Regions from separate parts of the Homo sapiens genome. Here regions 1, 3, 4 and 5 are each linked to region 2. Evidence: fine-mapped expression QTL. A gene starts in region 2. Each other region holds a variant in brackets. All regions are shown on one strand. Distances are from middle to middle.

What was found. PIP is the estimated chance that this variant, and not a neighbour inherited with it, causes the effect.
Region 1: its variant is the best candidate, but not a certain one, in a credible set for the expression of DENND3 in whole blood (TOPMed, PIP 0.79).
Region 3: its variant is the best candidate, but not a certain one, in a credible set for the expression of DENND3 in T cells (TOPMed, PIP 0.65).
Region 4: its variant is the best candidate, but not a certain one, in a credible set for the expression of DENND3 in whole blood (Lepik 2017, PIP 0.89).
Region 5: its variant is the best candidate, but not a certain one, in a credible set for the expression of DENND3 in whole blood (INTERVAL, PIP 0.75).

The regions. Positions count from the first base shown.
Region 1 is chr8:141,094,672-141,098,813 of GRCh38, forward strand. No RefSeq gene overlaps it. Among named protein-coding and RNA genes, the nearest start is that of DENND3, 32 kb to the right of the region's middle. RefSeq lists a silencer at 1-110 and an enhancer at 356-1,355. The variant C/A (reference allele first, on the strand shown) is at 2,064.
Region 2 is chr8:141,126,179-141,130,188 of GRCh38, forward strand. DENND3 (DENN domain containing 3) reads left to right here and starts at 2,411. Exons shown (of 23, transcript NM_001352890.3): 1 at 2,411-2,631. The coding sequence starts at 2,530. It overlaps DENND3-AS1 (DENND3 antisense RNA 1), which reads right to left and starts at 3,963. Exons shown (of 2, transcript NR_183310.1): 1 at 3,846-3,963; 2 at 1-293. RefSeq lists enhancers at 1,007-1,838, 2,672-3,502 and a silencer at 1,957-2,816.
Region 3 is chr8:141,202,506-141,206,647 of GRCh38, forward strand. LOC105375785 (a long non-coding RNA gene) reads right to left here and starts at 854. Exons shown (of 4, transcript XR_007061124.1): 1 at 1-854. RefSeq lists a silencer at 3,326-3,735. The variant GA/G (reference allele first, on the strand shown) is at 2,063.
Region 4 is chr8:141,188,712-141,192,853 of GRCh38, forward strand. DENND3 (DENN domain containing 3) reads left to right here. Exons shown (of 23, transcript NM_001352890.3): 19 at 275-435; 20 at 1,573-1,706; 21 at 3,620-3,738; 22 at 3,815-3,952. Among named protein-coding and RNA genes, the nearest start is that of DENND3-AS1, 61 kb to the left of the region's middle. RefSeq lists enhancers at 3,414-3,914, 3,915-4,142. The variant C/T (reference allele first, on the strand shown) is at 1,921.
Region 5 is chr8:141,157,824-141,161,965 of GRCh38, forward strand. DENND3 (DENN domain containing 3) reads left to right here. Exons shown (of 23, transcript NM_001352890.3): 9 at 2,809-2,964. Among named protein-coding and RNA genes, the nearest start is that of DENND3-AS1, 30 kb to the left of the region's middle. RefSeq lists an enhancer at 743-862. The variant T/G (reference allele first, on the strand shown) is at 2,545.

The DNA of each region.
Region 1 (4,142 bases), 31 kb before region 2:
GACTCACTGGGGACCAGGGATGTCTTCCTGGAGGAGGTGGAATCGGAGCAGGGCTTCGGAGAGTGGACGGGATTTGGGGTAGACCAGGGTTTCACAACCTTGACATTGACATCTGGGGATCATTCTCTGGTGAGGGGCCGTTCCGTGCACTGCAGGGTGCTGAGCAACATCCCAGGCCTCCACGCATTTGATGCCACTTGGCACCCCCAGACCCCGAACAGTTGTGACAATCAAAAGCATTTCGAGAAATTGCCAAATGTTCCCTGGGAACAAAATTTACCCCAGTTGATTTTTTTTTTTTTTTTTTTTTTTTGAGATGGAGTCTCATTCTTGCCCGGGCTGGAGTGCGGTCGTGTGATCTCGGCTCACTGCAACCTCTGCCCCTAGGGTTCAAGCAAGTCTCCTGCTTCAGCCTCCCGAGTAGCTGGGATTACAGGCCCCTGCCACCATGCCCAGCTAATTTTTGTATTTTTAGTAGAGACGGGGTTTCACCATGTTGGCCAGGCTGCTCTTGAACTCCTGACCTCAAGCGATCAGCCTGCCTCGGCCTCCCAAAGCACTGGGATTACAGGTGTGAGCCACCGCACCTGGCCCAAAATTTCCCCCAGCTGAGAACTGCTGGATCCGAGAACCACGCACAGATTAGAAATGGAGAAAAGCCTGAAACTCCCTGGAGGGTCTGAGCTTTGCAGACGCTCCCTCCTGCCCTTAGGTGTTAGTTCTGTGAGAGGCCAGCATGGCCACTGCCTGAGGTCCTCACAGGAGTCTGCTTCCTGCCCAGCCTTACCCTGGGTCTCACAGCCTGACCTCGGGCCTTCCTGCAGACCTGCCTGCTGTCCCAGCTGGAGCTCCTTCTCTCGAGAGTTCCTGTGACCCTGGCTGTGGCCAGAGCCGGGGTGCGGGATGGTCCCAGGCCTGATGGTGTCTGACCACGTGATCACACCCTCCCCAGACCGAGGAGGAACCTGGGGCTGGGAGGGAAGTGCCTTGCCCACAGCCACACGGAGGGCAGAAGCAGCCCTTCCCGGGCCCAGGCTGCTACTCGGCCCAGCCAGCTGCGTCTGACGGTGGCAGAGCTGCAGTGTCAGCGCCGGGAGGGCCCGCAGAGCCCCATGGGCAGGCTCTTATTTCACTGGTGGGGAGACTGAGGCCCTGGGGTGGGGGTTCCAGGCTAGTTATGGACAGAGCCAGACCAGAACTCAGATGTCCTTACTCCCAGGGTAGATGGGACCCTCGTTTGAGCATGTCATTATTAAGCCCCTGCGTTGTCCTAAGAGCTTTCTCTCATGTGTCCTTTCTGAGCACCTGCGGCGTCTATGCCACTCCACTGAGTTCTGTAAACCCCACAGGTAGGGGCAGAGGCCAGAGGGGTGGGTGACATGGTCAGCCTGCATCCCAGGGCACCCTGGACAGAGTGAACCAGAGGACGGGTGTGGAGTACGTAGCGGAACATCCTGGGAACTGCTACTCTCATGACCCTTGTGGCTACCATCAACCGTTTCAAGAGAGACTGCAGGGAGGCCCCACTGCTCCAGACCTGGGAGCCCCATGTTTCCAAGGCCCTGAGTTCCTCTATAAGTCCCAGGGGCAGGAGGAGGGGACGTGGAAGGTTGAGCTCCCACGCCCACCCAGCTTCACTTGGATTTGCCTAAAACGTTCTTTGAAACAAAGAATTCTATTGTTTAAGACACTGTTCTCAAACCAGGCACTGGGGCTGGAACCTGTGCCTTCTGGAATTCCCTGCCCTCTCGGAGGACTCCGAGACCTGGCTGCAGCCACCCCTGATTCTCCTGCACCGAGGAACACCCCGTGGGATGTGCTGGCCACTGATGGCTGACCTCTGTGCCGCCGTTGCCAAGGGTGGCCGGACTAAAGACACGCTTGTGAGAGCACCACGGGCTCCAGAGGAGTGGCTCCTGCTTCTGGGGGAGCAGCCAAAGCCTGCTCTGCGCTGCTTTGCAGAGACCTCTGAGCCAGCCAGGTGCTCCCAGGGGACGGGTGGGCCGCCGGCCTGCAGGTTATGCACAAAGCAAGGAAGTGTGACGCCACCAGAGGGAGGTAAA[C/A]AGAAGGACGCTTCCTCTTTCGCTTCCACAGGCCTCCTGCCTGATCCAGAAGGTTCTCAAACTACAGAAATATTTCCCTCCCAGCCTGTACAGGGGCTCAGGTAGCACTTCTGATGTTGCCCTCCTTGTTGGGGAGGAAAGGGAATTTTTTATTTTTATTTTTATTTTTTATTTTTTAGAAGGAGTCTCGCTCTGTCGCCCAGGTTGGAGTGCAGTGGCCCGATCTCAGCTCACTGCAAGCTCTGCCTCCTGGGTTCACGCCATTCTCCTGCCTCAGCTTCCCGAGTAGCTGGGACTACAGGCGCCCACCACCACACCCGGCTAATTTTTTGTATTTTTAGTAGAGACGGGGTTTCACCGTGTTAGCCAGGATGGTCTGGATCTCCTGACCTCGTGATCCACCTGCCTCAGCCTCCCAAAGTGCTGGGATTACAGGCGTGAGCCACTGCACTCGGCCTTTTTTTGTTGTTATTTTTGAGATGGAGTCTCACTCTGTCGCCCAGGCTGGAATGCAATGGTGCAATCTTGGCTCATTGCAGCCTCGGCCTCCTGGGTTCAAGAGCCTCACCTGCCTCTGCCTCCTGAGTAGCTGGGATTACAGGTGCCTGCCATCATGCCCTTTGTATTTTTTGTAGAGAAGGGGTTTTGCCATGCTGGCCAGGCTGGTCTCGAACTCCTGACCTCAAGTGATCCACCCACCTCAGCATCTCAAAGTGTTGGGATTACAGGCATGAGCCACTGGCGCCCAGCATTGAGTATGCATCATTTGTATGTGTTGGATACACTTCAAGTCTTCTCTTCTAGCTATTTTGAAATATACAGTAGTTGTTAACCAGAGTCACCCTACTCTGCTATCCAACGTTAGAACTTATTCCTCCTATCTAACTGTATGTTTGTACCGTTAGCCAACCTCTCTTCATTCCCCCACCCTCCTTTCCCTTCCCAGCCTCTGTTAACCAACATTCTACTCTCCACCTTCATGAGATCCACTTTTTTTGGCTCCCATGTACGAGTGAGAACGTGCCACATTTGTCTTTCTGTGCCTGGCTTATTTCACTTAACACAGTGACCTCCAGTTCCATCCACGTTGCTGCAAATGACAGGATTTTATTCTCATTTTATGGCTGGATAATATTCCATTGTGTAAATATACCGCCCTTTCTTTATCTTTTCATCTGTTGGTGACACTCCGGTTGAGTCCGTATCTTTGCTGTTGTGAATAGTGCTGCAGTTGATGTTTATGCGGGTGCAAGCATCCCTTTAATAGATGGATTTTCTTTCCTTTAAATACCTGGTAGTGGGATTGCTGGATGGTTTGTAGTTCTACTTTCAGTTTTTTGAGAAATCTCCTTACTGTTTTCCATAATGGCTGTACTAATTTATGCTCCCACCAACCAGTGGATGAATCCCTTTCTGTCCACATCCTTGCCAGCATCTGTTATTTTTTGCCTTTTTAATAACAGCCATTCTGGCTGGGGTGAGATGATATCACATTGCAGTTTTGATTTGCATTTCCCTGATGATAGTGATGTTGAGCATTTTTTTCATATACCTGTTGGCCATTGTGTGTCTTCTTCTGAGAGATGTCTATTTGTCTATTTAGATCCTTTGCTCACTTTTTAATGGAATTGTTTTAAAAACAAACAAAACAGGTGAGAGGACACTGCTAGAATCACAGAGGTGAGCTGGGGGTGTCTTGATGGCTGACAGCAGCTCACCCCCACCCCACCCACTTTACAGATGAGAAAACTGAGTCCCCGAGGGTTTAAGTGTTTAAACGTTTAACAGGTGATTGGTTGACATTGTGAACAGACAGGTTCTGGCACTGCAGCTTTAGGGGAGCCAGAAAGCCCTGCTTACTCCCAAATTGTTCCTCACTGTCCCATTGCAGAGAACATTTCCTTCACTAGCTTCTTCTCCTTTGGAGTGGCTGGGCCAGGACAGGAAGGACACCAGAGTCAGGAGGCCTTCTGTTCTGGCCTGGCTACTGACTCGGGCAAGCCGTGTTACCTCCCTGACCTCAGCCTCCTCCCCTAGAAAATGGGATGATGAGGCCAGGCACGGTGGCTCACGCCTGTA
Region 2 (4,010 bases):
CTGAGCCCACATGCAGTAAGCACTGACCGTGTTTGCAAGTTTCTTTTATCCAATCCGAGCTTTGCTTTCCTCGACTCTGATGTGGGGCAGTGCTGCCTACTGGGGCAGATGTTCCTGCTGGCTGGGCTCTCCTTGCACCTCTCTTCTTCTCTAGGTCCCCTCATCTGCTCATCTGCCTCGATGTGACTTCCACCTTTGAGTTTGATTGCTAGTCATCTCCACCTCGTATCTCCAAACCCATTAGCAATTTTTCAAGGATGGGACAAAGCTTTCCGTAGGCACTTTGGAAGGACCTGTGGCATGAGAGACGGGAGCGTATTAAAAAGTGCAGAACTGGGAGCCCCTCAGAGGTCATCTGGCCCAATTATCTGGTTTTAAGGAGGAGGAAAAGGGGGCATAAAGGAGTGGATTGCAAGCTCTGTGCACTGCTGGAGCTCTCTTCCTTAAAGCATTTGGCCTCTTGGTGATAAAGGGACAGCAGAGACCTGCTCTCGCGTGAGCCTTACTGGGTCCTGGTGGCAAGAGCTGCCATGTGTTTACCTCCCTTGGATCTTGACCACTGCCCCTCAGGAAGTCACGGCTTAGGGCTGTTGAGCTCACCTGTCACACAGCAACACACAGGAGCCAGACTCAGGCCCTGTGTGCCCTCAGGGAGTGGCTCATGGCTCCAGCCCGGGTTGAGAGCGCCTCTCCTGCATGCTGGGGACTCTAGGTGACGGATTCAGGCTGTGTGCTTTGCAGAGGCTGCTAAAAATGAGGCCACCAAGGCTGGGTGTGGTGGCTCATGCCTGTAATCCCAGCACTTTGGGAGGCCAAGGCGGGTGGATCACCTAAGGTCAGGAGTTTGAGACCAGCTTGGCCAACATGGTGAAACCCCATCTCTACTAAAAATACAAAAAGTAGCCAGGTGTGGTGGTGGGCGCCTGTAATCCCAGCTACTCTGGAGGCTGAGGCAGGAGAATCGCTTGAACCTGGGAGGCAGAGGTTGCAGTGAGCTGAGATCATGCCACTGCACTCCAGCCTGGGCTACAAGAGCAAAACTCTGTCTCAAAAACAAACAGAAAAACAACAACAAAAAACCGAGGCCACCGTCGAGAGAGACAGGCAATTGTTCATGAAATCGGTCTTTCTTTTGAAGTCAGAGACTATAACAACTGTGGCCTCAGCTCACCGATGAGAGCCACCGATGGTAGGCAGCCTCCAGGCCTGGGGGAGAACCAGCAGATCCTCACCATCTTTAGGTTAATAAGTGAAATAAAACCTGTGAGTCAGGCTGCAGTCACGGCCTCACCCGGCTCAGGGAAGGAGGGAGAAATTCCTCAGGGCTCCCTTTTCTGATGTTGCCTTGCTTTGTACTTACTGTTCCTTTTCCTGTTCAGCTGATGACAGATGTTTGACATTAAGCATTTTAGAGTTTTGTTTTTTAGAAAATAGAATCATAGATTATCAGAAGTGGAAGTCCCTTTGGAATAATTTCCCCTGGGTTACACAGATGGCTATGGCAGGGTCAAGGGAGGGGACGGTCAGCGGGGACTGAGCGCAGGCCCCCTCCAGGCTCTGCAGCAATGACCAGGCAGCAAGCCGGCCTCCCGGGCTTGTGGGCTGTCCTCTTTCTCTGGGGTCAGCCTGAGGCTGGAAGAGGCCCGTGGCCCACCGGGCATCAGGCCAAGCCTGGAGCTGACCAGGGAAGGGCCCTGCCAGGCCTTGGGCCTCTGACCCTCAGTCCTGAAGCCTCCCTCTAGCGGCGCCCACCCTGCTCCTTTTCCTGCTGAATTTTACTCAAGTCCGTACTTGAGTATGGCCGGCCCTAGGTTAACCCCGCAGAGTTATTAACCAGGAGTGGCTCTTTCCACCCCCCCTTCCCGCCGGCCCTTCCTGCTGTCCACACCCGGCCAACTCCACTGTCCTGGCAAGGGAGGGCTTCCTGGAGGCGGCAGCGGGCGGCGCGTCCGGCCTTTGTCCCCCCACGCTCTCCAGGGTAGGTCCAGGGACTGCCAGATCAGGGGACCCTTTGCGTCCTGGAGCCTTGGGGGCTGGATGACGTCGCCGGGCACCTGAGGACCCCGCCCATTCCTCCCTCGGTTCCCCAGGGAGCGGGCGGCCGGCGGGGCTGGGCGGGGCCGAAGGAAGGGGCCGCTTGCTCCGACGCCGCGCACGCGCCAGGGCCCGCAGGCGGGTTAGGAAATGACGACCGCGCGCGGGTCTCCAGCAGCACCCGCCCTAGGACCGGCCCCGCCCCCAAGTCCCGGTCCCTAGGGCCGGGCACGCCACTCCAGGCCCCGCCCAGAACCTCCCCGCCCAGTCAAGCCCCGCCCCCAAACTCTGTCTCCCCGCGGTATCCTCTGGGGCTCTCCAGGCCCCGCCTCGGCTCGGGCCCCGCCCCTCCAGGCCCCGCCTCCAGCCCCGCCCCGCAGACGGCGCTCGCAGCGCCCCCGGCCCCCAGGCGGCGCGGCTGGTCCCCAGGGGTCTGCGGGCGACTGCGCGGCTGAGGCGCCCGAGTGCGGTACTGGCGGCGGGCGGCGGGCAGCCATGGCGGAGGCCGCGTCGCCGCACTTGTCGCTGCCCTCGGGGCTGCTGGAGCTCTGCGCGCTGCTGGGCGCCCCCCGGGACAGTCTCCGAAGTCTCGAGCAGGTGAGGGGCGGGGAAACTGAGGCGGACGTGGGCCACGAGTCGGCAGCCGGGACAGCAGTCGGAGAGCGGGCGCCCGGGTGCCCTGTGGGTTGGCGCGGACTTTCCGAGGGCTGAGTCCCGGTCCCCCGGCGGTGACCCCGCGCGCCTGTGGCCGGGGATCGCGCCCGAGCTCAGGCAGGTGCCCTGGAGCAGCGCCCTGCTCCCCTCCCCTCTTCTCTCCTCTCCCCGCCCGGGGCCCTTGGTGTGAGACATGTCTTTTGAGAGCTGCGAACTTGGTCCGCCGGCCGGGAATCTGGGGGTGCCGCCCCTCGGAGAGTCTCTGGGGCCTCTCTCTTCAGTCGCTCCCATCTTGGGCAGGTGCTTCTGAAGGTGGGGTGCACCAGACAACGGGCGGAAGCCGCCGGAGCCTCACGGTCTAGCGGGCCCAGCCCTCGCTGCTGAAATGATTTCATTCTTTATGCTGGGATGTGTTGTCCCCTGAGTAGTGGGTTTTGCACCAGGCACAGAATAACGAGAGAGCAATCTTAGAGTTAGCCGCCGGCCTCGCGTATTCTGCATGAACCCCTTTGCGATGAAGCCTATAGCTATTTTTCTCCCTTGCGGTACCACCCCCACCCCCAACCCTTCCTCCATCTCTGCACCCTCGCAGCCAAAGTGACAACTTCATCTCCCTTCTGCTGGGAAAGCGGCAGTTTTGGAAATTCTCGTTTTCCTTTTTCTTCCCCAGCTTTTCTTAATTCTGTAACGCTGGCTTTCCCTGGAATCCATCTGTGTCTCTGGTTTCCTCCTGGTCCGCCTGTCTGTGACACCGTGACTGGGTCATGTTACCTAGAGATCCCGGCGTCACTGGCCAGCCGTCTGCACAGGTCCGTTCATCTCTTTGCAGACAACAGCATAGAAAGGCAGAGAGGCTTCTGAGTATTTAAATGACGCTGGGCTATCCAGGGAAAATGAAGACTGCAGGGCAGAGGGTGTCACCAGGAAAGGCAGATGTTCCTGCAAGTAACCAGATGAATGTCTGTGAGTGTCCGGGGAGTTTCCCCTGCTGGGCGTCAGTACCAAGCCAGTTTCGACTTCAGTGAAAAAGCATTCTCCTATGGAAATAGTTTCCTCGTTTCCCTCAACTTTTCCTTCCCTTCAACGCCCTGTCATGTCAGTAGATCCCGTTTGACCTCTGTCTCCTCGCAACGTCATCGATTGATTTGTCTCCCTACCTCGAATTTGCCAGATGGCATCTCCTCCTTTTTCTTCGAATAGGAAGTGACCTAGTTGCCGCTGTGGTCTCCTCAGCCGTTGAACGTCTTTCCTCTGGGGCAGTTACAACATGGGTGTTAGTTGCTTGGTGTGACACATGTCTTTTGAGGGCAGGGCGAATCAAC
Region 3 (4,142 bases), 76 kb after region 2:
CAGACGGGGTCGTGGCCGGGCAGAGGCGCTCCTCACATCCCAGAAGGGGTGGCGGGGCAGAGGCGCTCCCCACATCTCAGACGATGGGCGGCCGGGCAGAGACGCTCCCCACTTCCTAGATGGGATGGCGGCCGGGCAGAGACGCTCCTCACTTTCCAGACTGGGCAGCCAGGCAGAGGGGCTCCTCACATCCCAGACGATGGGCAGCCAGGCAGAGACGCTCCTCACTTCCCAGATGGGGTGGTGGCTGGGCAGAGGCTGCAATCTCGGCACTTTGGGAGGCCAAGGCAGGCGGCTGGGAGGTGGAGGTTGCAGCGAGCCGAGATCACGCCACTGCACTCCAGCCTGGGCACCATTGAGCACTGAGTGAACCAGACTCCATCTGCAATCCCGGCACCTCGGGAGGCCGAGGCTGGCGGATCACTCGCGGTCAGGAGCTGGAGACCAGCCCAGCCAACACAGCGAAACCCCGTCTCCACCAAAAAAATACGAAAACCAGTCAGGCGTGGCGGCACGCGCCTGCAATCGCAGGCACTCGGCAGGCTGAGGCAGGAGAATCAGGCAGGGAGGTTACAGTGAGCCGAGATGGCAGCAGTACAGTCCAGCCTCGGCTCGGCATCAGAGGGAGACCGTGGAAAGAGAGGGAGAGGGAGACCGTGGAGAGAGGGAGAGGGAGAGGGAGAGGGAGACCGTGGAGAGAGGGAGAGGGAGAGGGAGACCGTGGAGAGAGAGAGAGAGAGAGAGGGAGAGAGGGAGAGAGGGAGAGAGAGAGAGAGAGAGAGAGAGAGAGAGAGAGAGAGAGAGACCGTGGAGAGAGGGAGAGGGAGACCATGGAGAGAGAGAGAGAGAGAGAGGGAGAGAGAGAGAGAGAGAGAGAGAGAGAGAGAGAGAGAGGGAGAGAGGGAGAGAGGGAGAGAGGGAGAGAGGGAGAGAGAGAGAGAGAGACCGTGGAGAGAGAGAGAGAGAGAGAGAGAGAGAGAGAGGGAGAGAGGGAGAGAGGGAGAGGGAGAGGGAGAGGGGGCCCCCTTCCTGTTAACATTGTACTAGAGATTCTAGCCAGGGCAATAGGGGGAGAAAAGGGGGGGGCATAAACATTGTACTGGTTCAGCAGAACATTGAGGGGAAAAAGATGATTGTACTGGAAGAGGCAAAACAATCTTTATTAGAAGACAGCAAGGCCATTTATATAAATCCTAAAGAATCTATTTTAAAAACTAGAATATTTTTCTAGTTTTTTCTATAAGGTACTGGATACAAGGTCAATATACAATCATTGCATTACTATATTCTAACAGCAAACAACTTGTAAACTGTTAAAATACAGTAGCATAAAAAACATTCAATAGAAATAAATTTAATGAATGACGTAAAAGACTGAAAACTCAAAAACATCGCTGAGAGAAAATGTTAAAGACTGAAATAAAAGATATACCATTTTCATGGACTGGGAGATTAAATATTGTAAAGATGTTAGTTATCTCCAAATTGATCTGATAGATTCAATTTAATCCCAATCAAAATGCTAACATAATTTTTAAAAAAGAAATTGAGAATTTGATTATAACATATATGGAAATGCAAAGTAGAATATTTAAGATAACCTTCAAAAAGAAGATCAAGCCAGGTGGGATGGCTCAAGCCAGAGGACTCATATACCTTTATGCTTTGCTAAAAAACTACAATAATTAAAACGGTAGGATTTGACATAAATATAGGTAATTAAATCAATGGAACACAACGTAGGGTCTAGATGCGCAAGCATAAAGTCAGTTGACTATAAAAAACAAAAATTCCAAGACAATTCGGTAATGAAAGTCTGTTCAGCAAATGGTGCTGCAATGACTGGATAAACGTATGGAAAAGGGAAGCAGCTCAACACTTACCTCACTACACATAACTTAACTCAAGGTGGCTCACCCACCTAAATGTAAAGCTAGAAGCTCTAGAAACAAGCACATCTTTGCCACCTTGGTGCAAAGATTTTTCTAGAGAGAACACACAAAAAAGCTAAACACTAAAGAAAAAATGGATAAATTGGACTTTATCAAAATATATCATTAAG[GA/G]AAAAAAAATATTTGCAATACTATATCTGACAAGAATTTTTATCCAAAATATATAGAGTTTTTACAAATCAGTAACAAGATGAACAGCTCAATTTAAAAATGGGCAAACAAGACCAGGCACAGTGGCTCATACCTGTAATCCCAGAACTTTGAGAGGCTGAGCGAGGCAGGAGGACTGCTTGAGCCCAGGAGTTTGAGACCAGCCCGGGCAACATAGGGAAACCCTATTTCTACCAAAAAAAAAAAAAAAAAAAGAAACAAAGCAGGGCATGGTGGCGTGCACCTTCAGTCCCAGCTACTCAACTGGCTGAGGCGGGAAGATGGCCAGAGCCCAGGATGCTTCAGTGAGCCACGATCAACCTTGGGCACTCCAGCCTGGGCAACAGAGGGAGACCCTGTCTCAAAAGAAAAAAAAGAAAAAAGAAGTTACACCCTGGAATGCTAACAGCTATTGCAGAATGCAGTAGGTCTACATGCAGGAACAAGGAAAGTTGAAAATATTTTGCTAAACAACAACAAAAAATGTAGGTTGCAAAACTCTGCATAGTGGTTCAAATTTCGTTTAAAAAAAATTAACATTAGTAGTGTGGAGACAAAGATGTGAAGACGGGCCGGGCGCGGTGGCTCACGCTTGTAATCCCAGCACTTTGGGAGACCGAGGCGGGCAGATCACTTGAGTCAGGAGTTCGAGACCAGCCTGGCCAACATGGTGAGACCCCCCCACCTCTACTAAAAGTACAAAAATTAGCCGGGTGCGGGCGTCAATTATCCCAGCTACTCGGGAGGCTGAGGTGGGAGAATCGCTTGAACCTGGAAGGCAGAGGTTGCGGTGAGCTGAGGTCGCACCATTGCACTCCAGCCTGGGTGACAAAGTGAGACTCCGTCTCAAAAACGAACAAAGACCGGGTTGGGAGGCCTGGGTCACTGATTCTCTGTCTTGGCGACTTCTTCTTGCCCCGTGATGGCCGCTGGGCACGCAGGGCTCATCCTTGGTGAGCATCCTGGGGAAAGGCCAGGAAAGGGGCGCAGCACCGGGTGTTCCCTCCTAGCCTGGTCGCTCGGGGGGAGCGTTGGTTGGCGGGGTGCAGGTCTGGTGCTCGCTCAGGTGGGCCAGGCACCCGCGCGCCAGGTGAGGCGGGCGGGGGAACACACGCCCCTGGCCCCTGCGCCGCCGTCACGGCCGCCCACCACCCGAGGGCGGGGGTCCTGGTGGGGTGTCGATTCCGCCTCCCCGCCCACAGGCACTGGGCCCCGGGCGGCCACCGGGGTGCGGGGCTCCCAGCGTCTCGGGCTCCCACTGCTTCAGGCCTGTCCAGGGGCGGGGAGCGTCTCTGTGGCCGCGGCGGGATTGCGGCGCGGTGGCCGGGCGTCCCCTGCAGGAAGCTGTTCTCGCTCGCTGCCTCCCCCACCTGGGAGGGAAGCGCCTGGATTTTGGGTCCCGCCGCCCTCCGCGCCCTGGGCCTCCACCTGTGTTCCCAAAGCCCAGCCACGAGTCTGGGGGTGCCGGGCGTGCCGTGGTGGGCGGAGGCTTCCACAGCCCCTCCCTGCCAGGGACGGCGGGGCGGGACATGGCGGGGCCGCACGCACCGGGTGGACGACAGGGGATGCCGCGGGCTCGCGTCAGCCAGGGCGCCAGGCAGGGTCCCAGATGGCAAATGGGGTCTTGGGTGCAGAGTCTGGGCGGCCCTGGCTCACCGCCCCACTCCCGTCTGGCCGAAGGACAGCGACCATCCCTTTAGTCCCCACCACAGGGCCATCAGCCTGCGTTTTGCAGCAGGGCGCCCAGGTAACAGCGCCAGAGTGGCCCAGCTGGGACTTGTCCCCAGGTCCGGAGGTTCCTGGCTTCCGTGGGCCCCCAACTGCGCAGGTCCCATCCAGGAGCCCCGTGGTGACACCCCCCAACTATCAAAGTCCCTCGTCCCTTTCTCCCTCGTCTGAGCAGATCCCTTCTACTCCACACCCCGGCCCTGCTGGGACCCCTTCCACGCCCCACAAATCAGAAGAGCCACTGAAGAAAACTTGCTTCCGGATTCAAACCCCAGCAGCTGGGTAACCCGGGGCAAGTCCCCTCCCTTTCAT
Region 4 (4,142 bases), 63 kb after region 2:
GTGACAGTGCTGGCGGCCGTGGGTTTCGTGTTAATGAATCAATCATACGTAGTCAATAAGGTGTCTGTGAACAGAGCACGCGGAGAACAAGGTTATGCACTGATGGGTGGATGACAACGTCAGGGCCAGAGGCTCCCAGGACCCTGAGCCGGCGTGTCCCCTAGGAGCAGTGGTTCCATATCCGCTAATTCAGCACGTGCAGTAAATGTATAGAATATGACTTCACCAGTATCGAGACTGACTGATTTCTCACGTTCCCGTGGCCTCCTGTTAGAACTGCATGGTGATGGCCGACCAGAACCAGGTGTGGGTTGGCTCGGAAGACTCCGTCATCTACATCATCAACGTCCACAGCATGTCCTGCAACAAGCAGCTCACAGCCCACTGCTCCAGTGTCACGGATTTGATTGTGCAGGACGGACAGGAGGCACCCAGGTGCAGTAAGCTCTGCTGGGGAGAAGGGACTGTTTGGCTTGTGGGTGGGCAGAAGGCACAGCGGGTAGGGTTCCCAAGTCTTGTGCCCACAGGGGCCAGGCGGGGCGTACAGAGTGAAGTGGATCTAGAACGAGGAAAGCTGGGTGGTGTCCTCGGTCTGCTTCTGCTCACGGGTGCGGAGAACCCATGACACCAGTGTGGGCCAAGCGTGGTGATGAAGGCACCACACCCGGCCTTCCTGCTGAGCTTGCTGTGGGCACTGTGGCATGGGGCAGCCCCGAGAGGGCACAGCCTCCCAGAGGTGCACCAGCCATGGTGTCAGAAGCCTGGACTCGCCTGATAATCGCCTGAGTGCTCAGTGTTGGCCTTGGGCTGCCTGTTCGCTGCTGTTTCCCACAGTGGGAGCAGCACTGGACACGGGGCATCCAGGGAGACGGGAGGAGGAGGTGGGGTCTCCTTGAGCAGAGGCTCATGGTGGGGAAAGTGCACAAGGCTGCCCACTTGGTCCAGGCAGCCCCAGCCCTGGGTGAGGGGCCACACTCCCCACTCCTTTTTCCCCTGACTTAGTGTCGGGGGCGCCTGTGTCAGGCCCTGTTGGGGTGGGTAGGGAGGTGCTAGTCTGGAAGCAAAGCTGGCTCAGGAGGTTCAGGGGTGGCGCAGGGTGCAGGCTCGAGCCCAGCCCCGCCCACAGCCGCCTGCACCTGCAGCCAGCCCATGTCACCCGAGAGCTCTGAGGATCGTGCTGGCTCCCTGGTCCCTTGTGTGAACGGGGACCGCTGACGAGGTTCCATTTCAGTTCATGGTCATGTCATGGCTCTATGACAACACCTCATTGAGCCTGCGGCCCGCGGTGGTGGGAGAGGTGGGCGTCCCGAGAAACCCGCCTTTTCCTGCCGAGTCAGTTACATTTGAGCCAAGCCTGGCTGTGGCTGCATTCATAGCATGTTTGCATGTTATTATCATGTTTGCAGGTTACGTTTGCAGGTTATTATGTTTGCATGTTATTATCATGTTTGCAGGTTATCCGTGTTGAGCACATTTTCTCTCATGGCGACTTGGTTCTCTCTTGGGTTAAAATGTGCACAGTGTTTTCAGGGGCCCAAGTTAAAGGTGTGTGTGTGTGTTTTGTGCCCCCAGCAACGTGTACTCGTGCAGCATGGACGGCATGGTGCTGGTGTGGAATGTGAGCACACTGCAGGTGACCAGCCGCTTCCAGCTGCCGCGAGGTGGCCTGACGTCCATCAGACTGCACGGCGGCCGCCTGTGGTGCTGTAAGTCCGGCCCCTGCCATCAGAGCGGGCACCCTACCTCCCTGCTCTGGGAAAAGGATGCTGAACGAGAGCAGAAAGCCTCTTTCCTTTGCTTCACGCCTTTCCAGTCTTTATTTTAAACTCGGGTTCCCTTTCTGTGGTCGCAGCAACCTTTACTCCACCTGCACTGCTGCTCCTGGGGGCTCCCCAGGCCTCCCTCTGCCTTTCTACCCAG[C/T]GGCTGACGGGATGCCTGTCTTGCCTGGACGCACCACTGCTCTCCTGTCCCTCACCTTGGCTTTTGCTGTGCCCTGCTCTGGGGTTGAAGCTGGCCCATGTGTCCCCCGGAGTCATGGCTGCTCCTCCTGGGAGGCCTCTGTGTGCGTCACGTCTCCACACCTGGGGGCAGCTGGCGAGCCCGTGCTCTGTTCCCCTCGGCTGCTTGGCACAGAGCTGCAGCCTGGGACTCTCCGTGGACCCAGACTGGGGATTTTGCCAGGGGGGCGATGGGAGGAGCAGGTGCTTTGCCTGGCGGCTGTGTCTGCATTTCTGGACGCCCCAGAGCACAGAAGTTGCCGGCACTTTGAGGTCTTCCTCGGCATGTGCCAGATTACATGAGTGACGGCTGGGAATATGTTTTCTTTTTTGTAATGGAGGCGTGTTTCACATATAGTAAAGCTCACCAAAAAGTGCTCAGTTTGTTGTGTTTTGACAAACATCTAAACTACATAACCATGAAACAAATCAAGACACGCAGCGTTTCCGTCACAGCTGAAAGCGTCTGTGCCCCTTTCCAGGCCGTGCCGCCATTCAGGGGATACAAGTGCTCTTAGTTCTGTCATCTGAATTTGGTTTTTACAGAACTTTCTACAAATGGACTCTACAGTAGGCCTTCTTCTGTATCTGGCTTTATTCAGACAGCAGGATGTTTATAGTATTCATCGCTGACGTTCTGAGTATCAATATCAATAGCTCGTTCCTTCTTGCAGGGTAATAGTCCATTGTGTGCATATGGAACATGCTCATCCTTCCCCTGCCCCAAGTGGGCACTGGGTTCACTCTGCTTAACTGTTTGAAAAACCGTCAGACTGTTTTCTGAAGTGGCGGCAGCAGCTTCCACGCCACCCGCAGTCTCAGGCTTCATTTCTTCACATCCTCACCCAAACTGGTTCTCACCTGTTTTTACTGACACCGTCCCCGCGGGAGTGAAGTGGCGTCTTGTGGTTTGGATCTGTGGCTCCCTCATGGCTGATGGTGCTGAGCACTCTGTCGTGTGCCCGGTGCCCGCTGACGCCTCCCTGGGAGCAGCGCCTGTGCAGGCCCCTGCCCACTGTTCCGCTCACTTTCAGGGCCGGTAGCGACGTGGTTGGGTGCAAGCCAACGGTTGTCCTTCTTCCCCTCATCTGTTATTTGTTCTGTTCTTCCTTTCTTGCCCTCTTTTGTATTGAATATTTTTATGTTCAATTTAATCTTCTTTACTGTTTTTAAGCATTATATTTTTGTTTTATTTTTCAGTGGTTGCTCTAAGAATTGCAATATGCAACCTTAACCGATCACCCTCCTCCTTAACTAACTATGATACTGCTTCATGGATAGGGTAAGAAGCTTACAACAGTATCAAGTGTGGTACTCCCAATAATACATTCTTTAAGATTTTTGCTTAAGCAGTCAATGATCTTTCAAGAAAGTTAAGAAAAATTAAGAAACTGCCCATATATTTACGTTTTCTGGTGAGCCTCATTTCTTCTTAAAGACCCAGGGTTCTAGCTTGCATTTTTTCCCAGTAGACCTCACCTGTGCATTCCTCAGGCGCCAGGTGGCACGTGGTGATCCCCCCCATCACCACGCTGGAAAGAGCAGTGAGGCCGGCTCTGGTGCTGGCGTCTTATGTTGCCAATGACACTGCCTGGCCCCATCCTAGCTCCTTCCTTCCACAGGCACAGGTAACAGCATCATGGTCATGAAAATGAATGGATCCCTCCATCAAGAATTGAAGATTGAGGAGAACTTCAAAGACACCAGTACCTCCTTCCTGGCCTTCCAGCTCCTTCCTGAGGTATCCCAGCAGGGGCTGTGGGCCCAGCATGTGCGTGGCCCGGGGCCCATAGCCCACACCGTGCCCTGCGTTTCAGGAGGAGCAGCTGTGGGCGGCCTGTGCAGGACGCAGCGAGGTTTACATCTGGAGCCTGAAGGACCTGGCCCAGCCCCCGCAGAGGGTGCCCCTCGAGGACTGCTCTGAGATCAACTGCATGATCCGGGTGAAGAAGCAGGTAGGGTGGAGGGCCCGCCATCCCCAGCATCCCCGGCAGGTCTCGCTTGCCCTGGCCGCATCCCCATGCTCCCGAGAGCCAGCCGCACGCCCTCGTGCCCTCCTGCCTTCGCCTCTCAGGGTTCCCCTCCTAACAGGCACGTGCAGGGTTGGTGCCAACGGGCCCACAGGTCACCATGTGCTGGTTTCAT
Region 5 (4,142 bases), 32 kb after region 2:
ATCTTGGCTCACTGCAACCTCCGCCTTCCAGGTTCAAGCGATTCTCCTGCCTCAGCCTCCGGAGTAGCCGGGATTACAGGCATCTGTGACCATGCCCGACTAATTTTTGTGTTTTCAGTAGAGACAGGGTTTCACCATGTTGGCCAGGCTGGTCTCGAACTCCTGACCTCAGGTGATCCACCTGCCTGGGCCTCCCAGAGTGCTCAGATTACAGGCGTGAGCCACCGCGCCCAGTCGGAGAACTACCTTTATTATTGTTCTTGCATCTTAAAAAATTCCCTAAGGCCTTAAAGCCAAGCGATGGTCCTGCACAGGCAAGGCTGGTTTCTGCTTGCTTGGGCTGTGGAATCGCTGGGCTCTCCTCCCCAGCCAAGGGCACCTGAGCAGCTGTTCTGTTGGCAACTGTCCTCTGCGCGAACTTTGAAGGAGACACGTGCTTTCCCAATCATCTCAGTTACTTTCTGGTAAGCCACAGCTGCTTCCTTGACTTTTAGAGCGTGACATTCTGTAATAGAACTGAGCTTTGTGAGACTGTGTTGAAGCTCTGAGCATTCCCAGGAAGGTAGGATTCTGCCTGCATCCTCATCTTCTTGTTAGAATTCCGGAATAGAAACACACACGATACGGAGGCTGGGCCCCGCTTTGGCTAGATCCCCCAGAATGGGGATGCAGGATGTCGTGTCTCCCACAGCCTCATTTTTGGAGACTCTTTTGTAAACACAAGCTAATCCCTGTGCCATGGGTGACCTGTCTATAAGAGGCCTCTGAGCTCATGATACAGGTTGTGGGCTGCGGTGTCGTTGGGGTGCCTGCTCAAGGGGCTCTGGAGTACAATATGCATCTCTCTGCACGTGAGCGTGTGGCTGGGAGGGACGGGGCAGCCCCCTCCTTGCCCAGCTTTCCCCAGCACCCTTGGCTCTTGGTCACTCTCTTCACTGCTGTCTTCATCTCTGATGGAAGTCGCTCTCTCCCTGGGCAGCAGGGGTAGGGTCGCCAGCTCAGGGCTATGCTGGCTGCGTGCTTGGGTGAGGGAGGCATGGGGTTCCGGGAGAGGGGATGGCCATCTCCTTCAGACCCCACTGTCCCTGCACCAGAAGATGCAGTAAGAGAAGCTGCCACTCCAGGTGGCATCATAGCCCTTTTTACATGAGGAAAGTCATCAAAATTTCTTTCCCTGGCATTCTGCGTGTTCTTTCAGATGAAAGGCCAGTTTGGTGCTGGTAAACATCACAGTTCTTGAGACCCATCTAGGCAAGGGTAGTTGCCCAAGTCCTGTGAGTCTGGTCAGCCAGGGCTGGGCTGGCCCCTCAGCAGCTGCTGCTCAGCACGTTTGGAGAGAACCCTGGTCCTGGCCCTGGCACCGCGTGCCTGCCTGCTACCATCCCCTGGTGGGCCACTCCACCCAGAATCCCGTTCTTCCCTTTTCCTGTCCCTGCCTCCAGGAGGGTCAGGCAGCGGCAGGGGCCTGTGGCCAGTGCACCCTTCCCATCACAGAGAAGATTGGCTCCTGCCGGCCATGCTGACCTGGCCCACACTCCCACTCCCCCTACCATGCTGGGCCGCACTGGGTCCATCAAGTCCCCCGTCTGTGTCTTCCTGTCACATCTCCGGTTCCAGGTCGTCTCCTGGGAGAACTCTTCTCTGCCCGCTCAGTCTGACTGCCGTGTCTCTCTAGCCCATCGCTGTGATGTGCGTTTCTGCCTGATGTCCTCATTATCTCCTGTTTTCTTGATTTGTCTCTTTTCCTACTTCCTCCCACTCACATGGAAGTGCCACGCAGGCAGGGGCTTGGCCTGTGTCCACCACCCATCCCTAGCACACAGATCAGTGTATGGCATACAGTAGGTGCTCAAGAAATATGTGTGACCAGATATGCGTTGGTTCTGTTTATTTTGTATATTTCTAACGTCCCTCTAGACATGCAGCCTTTAGTGGTGTTGGGAAGGCCAGGGGTCCAATCTCATGGTGGCTCAGGGTTGACAGATATCTGTGAGTTCCTGTCCCTGAGTGAGGCCCTCTGGGGTGAGCCTTTGGCCATCTCCTGGTGGGCCAAGAGTGGTGACACCCGGGACGTTTGTTGCAGGGCACAGAGGGGCATCTGATCCTGCCTGGGCAGGAAGTACAGAGGGGAAGCCATGGGGGAGCTGTGACTGTCCCTTCTAGGCAGCCATGAGTGACCCGTCAAGAGGCAGCCTGACCTGGAAGCCTTTGGTGACCTAGAAGGGGGAGTGCCCTCACTGCAGTGGCAGGACAGGAATGAGCTGGCCTGGGTGAAGTGTGCATAGTCCAAGTCGAGGCCCATGTGAGTCCATGTGTGGAGGTGAATCCACTCTTCCAGTCTTCCAGCGATGTATTTTTTTTTTTTTTTTTTTAAGACAGAGTTTCGCTCCTGTTGCCTAGGCTAGAGTGCAGCGGCACTATCTCGGCTCACTACAACCTCCACCTCCCAGGTTCAAGCGATTCTCCTGGCTCAGCCTCCCGAGTAGCTGGGATTACAGGTGCCTGCCACCATGCCTGGCTAATTTTTGTATTTTTAGTAGAGAA[T/G]GGGTTTCACCATGTTGGCCAGGCTGGTCTTGAACTCCCTGACCTCAGGTGATCCACCCACCTCGGCCTCCCAAAGTGCTGGGATTACAGGCGTGAGCCACCGCGTCCAGCCCCAGTGATGTACTTTAATGACCACCCGCCCCTCAAATTATTGATCGGTATTTGTGTCTGTGAAGTGTTCATTTACCTGGTGGGCTGTGTGCTGGTGAGCGGCCGTGGCCAGTGCTGCTGGGGCTGAGCTAGCTTCGGTCTGCCTCCTTCCAGGGTGCAGAGCCTCCAGCTCCACCATGAGCTGCACGCCGCCCACCTCCTCTCCAGCACAGACCTGAAGGAGGGCCGAGCCCACCGGCGGTCCTGGCAGCAGAAACTCAACTGCCAGATACAGCAGACCACCCTGCAGCTGCTCGTGAGCATCTTCAGGTACGTGAGAGAACATTCCCAGTGTCCATGAGGAGGTAACCAGCCAGCCATCCATTCTATGGGGATCGTGCACCCCGCCCCAGAGGGCAGGCCATTAGTACCATTTGCCTGGCAAACATGAGTGGTCCCCGCCCCCTGCCAAAGCTTTTCTTGTGACTGTAACAATCAGCAGTTACAGGGAGTTTGTTCTTTTGATTCTGACCTTGCCTGTGCCTTCCTAACACCCTCTCCTGCTGGTGACTGCCTTCCTAACAGCTTCTCCTGCTGGTGACTGTGCCTTACTACCTTACTAACGCCCTCTCCTGGTGACCCCCTGCAGGTGGCTGTTTTGGGACAGCCCTCTAGGAAGACGCAAATCTGATAAACCTGCAGGGAGCACCTGTCACTCTGGCCTGTGCTGGCTCCGGGCTCTGGCTCAGTCCGTGGAGGGCTCTGTCCCGAGAGGCCTGCATCCAGGGGCTAGTGAGGGACAGACAGGCCATTTTGATGTGACTCATAAGCTAGATCATGAAACCATCTATGGGAGAGCCACAGGACGGGTGGGGCACTCAAGATGTGCCTGTTAGCAAGTTTTCTTTCTCCTCATTCCACTAATTACAGCATTAGCTACCTCCTGCATGCTATTGCTTCCCCAGCACCTGAGCTGGAATTGGTTAAGTGGACAAGTCAAGTGTGTTTATTTCAGTGTGATACAGTACAGGTATTGAGTTGCTATTTCTGGCCTAAATAGGCAGTCACTTAAGGAATGTATGGCAAAAATGATAGCTTCATAGATAAGTACTTTTTAATGCAAAAGCCTTTGGGCTTCTCCCACCCTTTCTCCTTTTCTCTGGCAGTGTTCTTCCTCTCCTTCTTGCTGGTTGCTCCCTGAGTCCAGCAGTGAAGGAGGCACCCCCGATGCTGGCCTCCTCTGTTCTTGAGGGGCCTTCCGCTTTGGGAGGTGGTTAGCACAGAGCCTGCTGGCTTGATCGTACTCTGCGTGATTATTTCAAAATGGAAATTTGAGTGGCCTTTTTTTTTTTTTTTTTTTTGAGATGGAGTCTCACTCTGTCACCCAGCCTGGAATGCAGTGACGCCATCTGGGCTCACTGCAACTGCCGCCTCCCAAGTTTAAGCAATTCTCCTGCCTCGGCCTCTGAAGTAGCTGGGACTGCAGGCGCCTGCCACCACCACGCCTA